Linked DNA regions of Homo sapiens. The protein of the gene in region 1 purifies or fractionates together with the protein of each later gene. This does not show direct contact. Each region holds a gene or a part of one and is shown in the gene's direction. Other genes may lie near its edges. The genes, in order: ADCY3 and TNFRSF21.

Region 1 (3,816 bases):
GGGAAGTGGGGATAGGGAGGAAAGTCGCTTGGTGCCCTCGTCCTGCTGGCCTGTGATGCCTGACTCTGGGCTGGCCCTGGCCTGCCTTACCCCCCACCCAACACCAAGCTGTGGGGACCTTGCCAGGCCCCCTCTTGTGGAGGGGAAGAGGCCCACAATGAATTTCTCCTGCAGGAGCAGGGGCAGCTGGCTGCCTCGTGAAGGCCACACCCTGACCCTCCTTTCTGTGTGTACCTGGCAGGTATGTGCGGGAGAAGACCAAGACTGGGGTGGACATGCGTGTGGGGGTGCACACGGGCACCGTGCTGGGGGGCGTCCTGGGCCAGAAGCGCTGGCAGTACGACGTGTGGTCGACTGATGTCACTGTAGCCAACAAGATGGAGGCCGGCGGCATCCCTGGGTGAGTGCCATTCCAAGGGGGCAGGTTTGAGGACTGGGGAGGGGACCGTCCCCTCCATCCCCCAGGGCTGTGACCCTGATGAGGGACAGGGGGCCTCAGAGAAGGCCTCCCTACAACCCCGGAACAGCATTCCTCCTGTCTCGCCCTGGTCCTGGCCCTGGCTAAGGCCGTTCTGACCTGCCTTGGGGTGAGGCCTCTTTGGGCCTGATATTGGATGTGGCTTTTCCTTCCTGGACCCTGCAGTAGCCTGTCCTCCTGTCCCCTTTACCGACTTAGGGGGCTGCCTCCCCTTTACCCACTAAGGGGGCTGCCCCAGCTCTCCTTATGTCAGAGCCCAGGTCTCCCCAAAGGGAGAGTAATGAGCAGTCATCAGCTAGCGGGCTCGCAGGCAGCGTTTTGCAGGTCGCAGTGCGATTACACGCCTTACTTGAGCTCCCTTACAGGATAATGGAGGCCCTGCCTTTAGCAGGGCGAGGCTGAGGGAGGATCAGCCCAGCCTTCCCCATCTGGGCCAGGGAGCTTCCTTCAGTGGCATTTAGGATTCTTGGCCTCAGTGGTGACTCCTCAGAAACAGGTTTTATTATCTCTTGGCAGCAGGGGTTGCAACTGAGAAACGTGCAAGGTGGGGGATAATTGGATCTTGTGGCTCACGCCTGTAATCCCAGCACTTTGGGAGGCCGAGGTGGGTAGATCACCTGAGGTCAAGAGTTTGAGACCAGCCTGACCAACATGACGAAACCCCATCTCTACTAAAAATACAGAATTAGTCGGGTGTGGTGGTGTGCACCTGTAATTCCAGCTACTCTGGAGGCTGAGGCAGGAGAATTGCTTGAACCCGGGAGGCAGAGGTTGCACTGAGCCAAGATCAAGCCACTGCACTCCATCCTGGGCGACAGAACAAGACTCTGTCTCAAAAAAAAAAAAAAAAAAATTCCTTATCGCATTTGATCTGCTTTACAGCGGATCAAAGATTGAAGAAAGATTGTACTCCTGTGTCGTGGCTCCAACACTGAGGCTGAGATGGGAGTAAGTGCCATACGGCCCACACAGCTAGTTAGCGGCCCACACAGCTAGTTAGCGGCCCACACAGCTAGTTAGTGGCAGAACTGCCTCCACTTGGCCTCTGCCCCACATGCCCGAGAGACACGGGGCCGAGCAGCAGCCGGTGCAGCCGTGGTCCGTGGACTGTCCCCTGGGGGTGTGAGGGCCACCTCTGGCCGACGCTCAGGGCCTCTCTCTCTGCAATCCAGGCGCGTGCACATCTCCCAGAGCACCATGGACTGCCTGAAAGGGGAGTTTGATGTGGAGCCAGGCGATGGGGGCAGCCGCTGTGATTACCTAGAAGAGAAGGGTATTGAAACCTACCTCATCATTGCCTCCAAGCCAGAGGTGAAGAAAACAGCCACCCAGAATGGCCTCAATGGCTCGGTGAGTTCCCCACCCCACCCCACCCACCCCACCCACCCCACCCCTGGATTAGGGGGTTGGAAAGGAGGAGATTAAGGAAAGATTGCAGAAGAGGTGGCAGGACCCAGCAGTGGCTGGCTGTGAGAGGTGAGTGGCAGGCTGGCACCCTTCCCAAGGGAGAGCTGGTTTCTGGGGGAGATGGTGAGTGTAATTCATGGCAGGTTGCAATGGAGGTGACTGAAGCATATCCCAAGACCACATCCAGGAGGGGGCCGCTGGAGATGTGTCGGTGGCGCCCAGGAGAGCAGCTGGGTTGGGGCTCAGGGTCTCCTGCATGGAGGAAGTGAGTGAAGCCACAGGAGTGACGTGGATGCTCAGGGAGAGGCTCAGAGAGGAGGGTGGGGGTGGGGTGACTGGTCATGGGGGAGGAGGACCAAGGCCAGGAAGGTTTCCTGAGTGGGAAATGAGGGAGGAATGAGATAGAAGTAATAGAGCAGGGGTGTCTAATCTTTCGGCTTCCCTGGGCCACATTGGAAGAAGAAGAATTGTCTCGGGCCAAACAAAAAATACTGTGGGTTGAACAAGCTTGCAATCGTGCATCCTGTGGGCCTGCCCTCTGGTCTTTTTGTGGGATCCCCCGAATATCTACAGACCTGAAGCACTCAGCAGCTTCCCCAGGTCTGTCCACCAACCCCCAAACACCTCCTGTCAGTCTGATTAGAAACCACCAGCAGCTGTTGCAGAAATGGATCCCTTTACCATCCCCTGCTGAATCTGGAGGTTGTCTTATTTTTTGTAATCTCATGTCAAAACCCTTTCCTCCAGTTATGAGAGTCCATCTAACAAGACTTGGAATTAAGGAGCTTGGTGACTGTCAGGGAAGTCGTGTCATTTGAGACTGCTCTATGGCTGAGGCTTTGCCTAATTATGGCTAAAGCAAAGCCCACTCTGGTGAGGCTGCCGGAGTGAAGGCTGATACTCCCCGCTGATTCTAACCTCGATGTCAGTCTCATCCAGTGTCATTTTAAAGGCTGTCTCTGACAACTCCCAAATTTGTATCTCCACCCCCAGTGTCTTCCCTGCACTCAACATACAGCCACTTGTACGTCTCCATTTGTACATATAATAGGTATCTTAAATGCCACCTGCCCAAAGCTCCTGCCCTCCTTCCCACTCCATAACCTGCTCTCCCTCGGTCTTCCCATCTCAGTTAATGGCAGTTCCATCCTTTTATTAACAACTGCTCAGACCAAAAAGTTTGAAATCATCCTTGACGCCTCACTTTGCAATCCACAAGCAAGTTCTGTGGCCTCAGATTGCTCTCTAATCCCACCGCCTCCCACGCCCTTGTCACTTCCAGACCTGTCCACGCCACTCTCATCCCATGCCCAGATCATGGCTGAGCTCTCCTTTCCTCTAGGCCCTGCCCAATGGAGCACCAGCTTCCTCAAAGTCCAGCTCCCCTGCCCTCATTGAGACCAAGGAGCCCAACGGGAGTGCCCACAGCAGTGGGTCCACGTCGGAGAAGCCCGAGGAGCAGGATGCCCAGGTATGTGCAGGGCTCAGGGCAGGGGGTCACTGAGGGCCAGATGCGGGCAGGCACCAGGAAGCAATACGTTCCTGCAGCAGGAGTCCTGTGCTGGGGAGACCTGGCCACCACCCAGGACCTGCTCCTGCTTAGCACTGTAACCATGGACAGGTCACCCCTCCAGCCCCGCAAAACCCCACTGTCTCCTCATCAGTTACATGCCGGGGTGAGTAAGGTCAAAAGAGGTGCTTAGCTCGGAGGCCTTTGTAGCTCTGATGGCCCGGAATCCTGTAGATTTGAGATCAGTGAGGACATCCATGGAAAATTATATAGGATCTGAGACCATTTTGGAAGTGAGATATCAGACCTGGACTCACCCCTCTGGCTAGGTTCAAGCCCCACAAGTTCCATGCAAGATGGGATATTTCCTTAGCCCCCAAAGGCGAGGAATTAGCATGCTGTCCCAGAGTGCAGGGTGCCT
Region 2 (3,816 bases), on another chromosome or scaffold:
AAGTATTTATCCCATTGGGATCCTTGGCCATGTGAACATAACGGACATCAGGTACTGGAGCCTGGGTACACGTGGCAGGGTACTCAGAACACTACTGGGGGAGGTGGGCAAGTTAGTGGCCTGCCCACGTATTACAGTTAGATTAAAAAGTAATAATCCCAGTAAAATGTTCTATTTATTATGTCTTTTAATGCTCTTCTTTCAAATATCTCCCTTTTTGTGTGATAATATTTATTGTCATCATTTTTGTGTTATGACTTTTTGTTTGTCATGACCGGCTAACTGCATGAAAAATAGCTTACTATAAGCTTATAAAAATACAAATATATAGGTACACAATATGATATAATATATACACATGTATATAGCAATTGTATATGTATAGAGAGAGCAATTGCTACATGCCAGGTGCTTTGTATACAGTATCTCATTTATTCATAGCATCTTTGTGAAGCAGGTGATATTGTCTCCTTTTTATAGTTGAGAAAATGGAAGCTCCCAGAACTTCATTGGTTTGTCCCAGGCCACACAGCTTGCACGTGATATTGCTGGGGCCAGAACCCAGGACTGCCTGGCTCTTCAGCTCATGTCCTCCCTTAGCCCTGTGCCACACTGCGTGTTTCACAAGTCCAAATTGCTTGATAATGAAATGTAACAACAGAGAAGGCTCACTGGGGAAAAGTTAAGAAGGTGGTTTGGTTTGTTACAGAACGTGAATGAGAATTACAGGAATGCCTTTGGAAGGAAGTATTCTTGCTGCTTGCACTTCTATTTCTGATGAGTGTCTGCATGATAATAGAAAGTAAAACATACACTGAAAGACAAGAGCTGGGTTCAAAAGTCTGGGGCTCAGGTGGACAAAACATTCTTGTTGCTCGACACCCAGTAAGTCTAGTGTGCATGATTGTGCTTTGTCTTCAGAATCTAAGCTTACCTTCCACCATCTTGACTTTACCAATTGTACTATTCTGCCTGAGACACTTACCCTTGCTATATCATATCTCTGTAAGGCAGAGACAAGATCCATGAGAGCTTTAGGTTTGTGCCAGTGATAAGGAATGCTCTAGAATGGCTTGCCCAGAGTGACACTACTTAGTCAGAGATGCCCCTTGCCCTCGGGGAGCTCGCTTTAACTGCATAGGTAGGATTTTGGCAGTGAGGCCCTCAGAAGAGAAGGGAGCCATAATTGGTAAAGATATGAGGTCTGAAGTTTTAGAAAACTCTTTTGCAAGCATTATGAATTCCAGATAGAGGGCTATTTGCTGTTATAGCCTGTCCAGCTGTGCGTTTGCCTAGAAAGTGCCAAGTAATAGTGTTTTTCTCTGTTACTGAAACTAGACATGTAGCTTAGTGCTACCTCCTGACCATCATTTATCAAAGTACATTACCTCGTACATTGGCAATTCACTTTGGCTGTTTGGGCAGGTGTGGAGTGGTCTGGTGGGGGCTGAAGTTCTGAATCATGTCAAGACTTGGTGGCAAATTCGAGCAGAACTTTAAATTAGAGCTGATATTATATCCAAAAGATTTTCTCTCTCCTATATATCTTAGCTCTACAATCCTAGAATGTGAAAGCTGGAAGGGAGCATAAAAAATACTGATTTAACACCCTGTATTTTTTGGTTGAGAGAAAAAAAAATACTCTACTGGGGAAGTGACTGCTTTTTCATGTTTACAAATGAAACTGCATCGAGCACCCTTTCTAAGTGAGGCACTATTCTGGGCAGTGGGAACCCAGGGATGAATTGGGATTTGGATCTTGCCATGAAGGTACAATTCGTATGGTATATAAAATGAGCATGGCCATCACCAGTGCTGGTTGGGTTTTACTCGCTCATGTGGAATCACTGGATGAATGTAGTATACTTACCTTAATACACAAAATATGATTGATGTTAAAATCTTTAAAATACCTGAAGTAACTTTGGCTCTTAGTCTGAGAATAAGAGAAAAAAAAGACTTTCAAATCTGAGAATGACATACGTTAGCCTCAGTAGAGAAAGCAACTTCTAATCAGAGGAATGGGGAGCGCAGAACCTGTGCTGGAATGCAGGAGTCCTGACCGACCCCATGAGTTATCATTACAGTCAAAATGTGTATAATGGAATTGAGCTCTGTCATCTGAACTGTTTCTGAAGGCATATGTTTGAATCTTCCCCAAGTCCAGTACAAAACAAACACACCTCTAGTGTAAATAAACTACACAAGTAAATCAAATCAGCAATAAAAAAAATTCCTCGTAAATGGGATTTAAGGACTACCTTAAGTTGGGAAGGGAAAAAAGGGAGGCTTGAAAAGGCATATATCCACCAAATTCCTGCATGACATATTTTAGTGTGGCTAAATGTAGACAAAGTCTATCAAGCAGGATATAGTAAGCACAGTTAATGCTGTATATTCTGGGGCAGTTTGAAGACAGTCCTTTTCTCCAGGTATGCTATTATTGGGTCAGAACAAATAGGTGGGAGCTTCTGGGCTGGCTCTGGCAGGTGGTCTTTGTCCTTTCTTCATTGTAGACCAGAATGTGGAGACATCACACTTTAACTTTGCAGGCAACTATATCCACGAAGATGAGAGGTGAAGCCTCTTTGGAGGCTGCATAGACAGTTTGCAAATTAATTTTGTGTTCAGCTGGTCCTTCATAAAGCATGTAAACTCTAATTGCCTTAAATAAACATCTTTTTTTTTTTTTTGGTTTTTTTTTGGTGACACGAAATGATCCGGTGCATTATCAGATCATTACTATTCAGGGGCTGGTATGAATTGAGTGACTTTTCCTTGTGCTTATTTTCCAGAAAGCACTAATATTCTGTTGGCTTTCTTTCCCCAAGCAGGCCTGGCAAATTCCGGTGATGCCAGGTCACCAGCAACTTCTTGGCAAACTCAGGTGCTTCTCTTCTGTGACAAGAAGAGCCCAGGTTATCTCAGAGCTTTGGGCATGTGTCCAGTGATCACTTGGAGCTGACTCAGTGTGGACCATTAGGCAAAGATATGTCTGTTTGACAGAATGACAATGGGAGCCATAATAGGAATCAATTTGGTTCCCAAAGTTGGATCCTCATTTAGCATTAGCAGAAGGCTGGGCCTTGTGGCTGTAGCAGCAACAGCTGCTGAGCTTTGATTATTTAGGATAGGGGCGAGATCATGAATAAATACTGGCCTTGCCCCAGTGTTTGTGTTTGTCAAATACCAAAAAATAAAATGGGAATCCTAAATTGGCTTGCATGCTGCCACCCAGCTTTCTTACCACCTTCATTTCTAGCCTGAATCCAAGAGGAGAGGAGCTTGGGTAGAGGTTATAACCCAGGAGGAACCTGGCAGATATCAGTGAGTACAGGCAGGACTGAGGGCTATACAGAGGTGGGGTTCACTGATACTTAGGCTGTTGACTCAAAGCAATAGTAAGCAATAGTGATCTCAGTGAGATCAGTGAGCAGTAGTGATCTCACTGTTCTTGAGAGGTGCTAAAGGCCACCAGAAGATTTTCTTGTCAGTATCCTGGCTTTGGAGATGACAGATGTGTGCAGTGGTGGGAAAGTTGCGCTCAGAGAGACCTCAGGCAGGTGTGGGACTGAGCAGGGTGTGGGTGGGGATCAGAACATTGCCCTGTGGCTTCATATTTAAAAATTATGCCTAAGACTTTGTGCTACACAAAAATAAAAACAAGAAAACTAAGGGGGGCACTTAGTAAGCTAAGTCATAGCAAGGCTCATTATCTAATCTTTATATACTTTTCTATTTGTTCGTCTCCTGTCAGTACTGCTGTGTGGCTCTGTTGCTTGGTGCCCTTGCAAATCTATCTGTTTTGGGAAAAGG

Evidence for each region.
Region 2: the proteins of ADCY3 (region 1) and TNFRSF21 fractionate together in Homo sapiens (co-fractionation; one large-scale study listed by BioGRID). This does not show direct contact.

What each region holds. Positions count from the first base shown.
Region 1 is NC_000002.12:24,836,457-24,840,272, reverse strand, and holds part of ADCY3 (adenylate cyclase type 3), read left to right. Parts: intron 1-241; coding exon 242-400; intron 401-1,360; coding exon of another isoform or gene 1,361-1,426; intron 1,427-1,650; coding exon 1,651-1,828; intron 1,829-3,227; coding exon 3,228-3,356; intron 3,357-3,816.
Region 2 is NC_000006.12:47,303,172-47,306,987, reverse strand, and holds part of TNFRSF21 (tumor necrosis factor receptor superfamily member 21 precursor), read left to right. Parts: intron 1-3,816.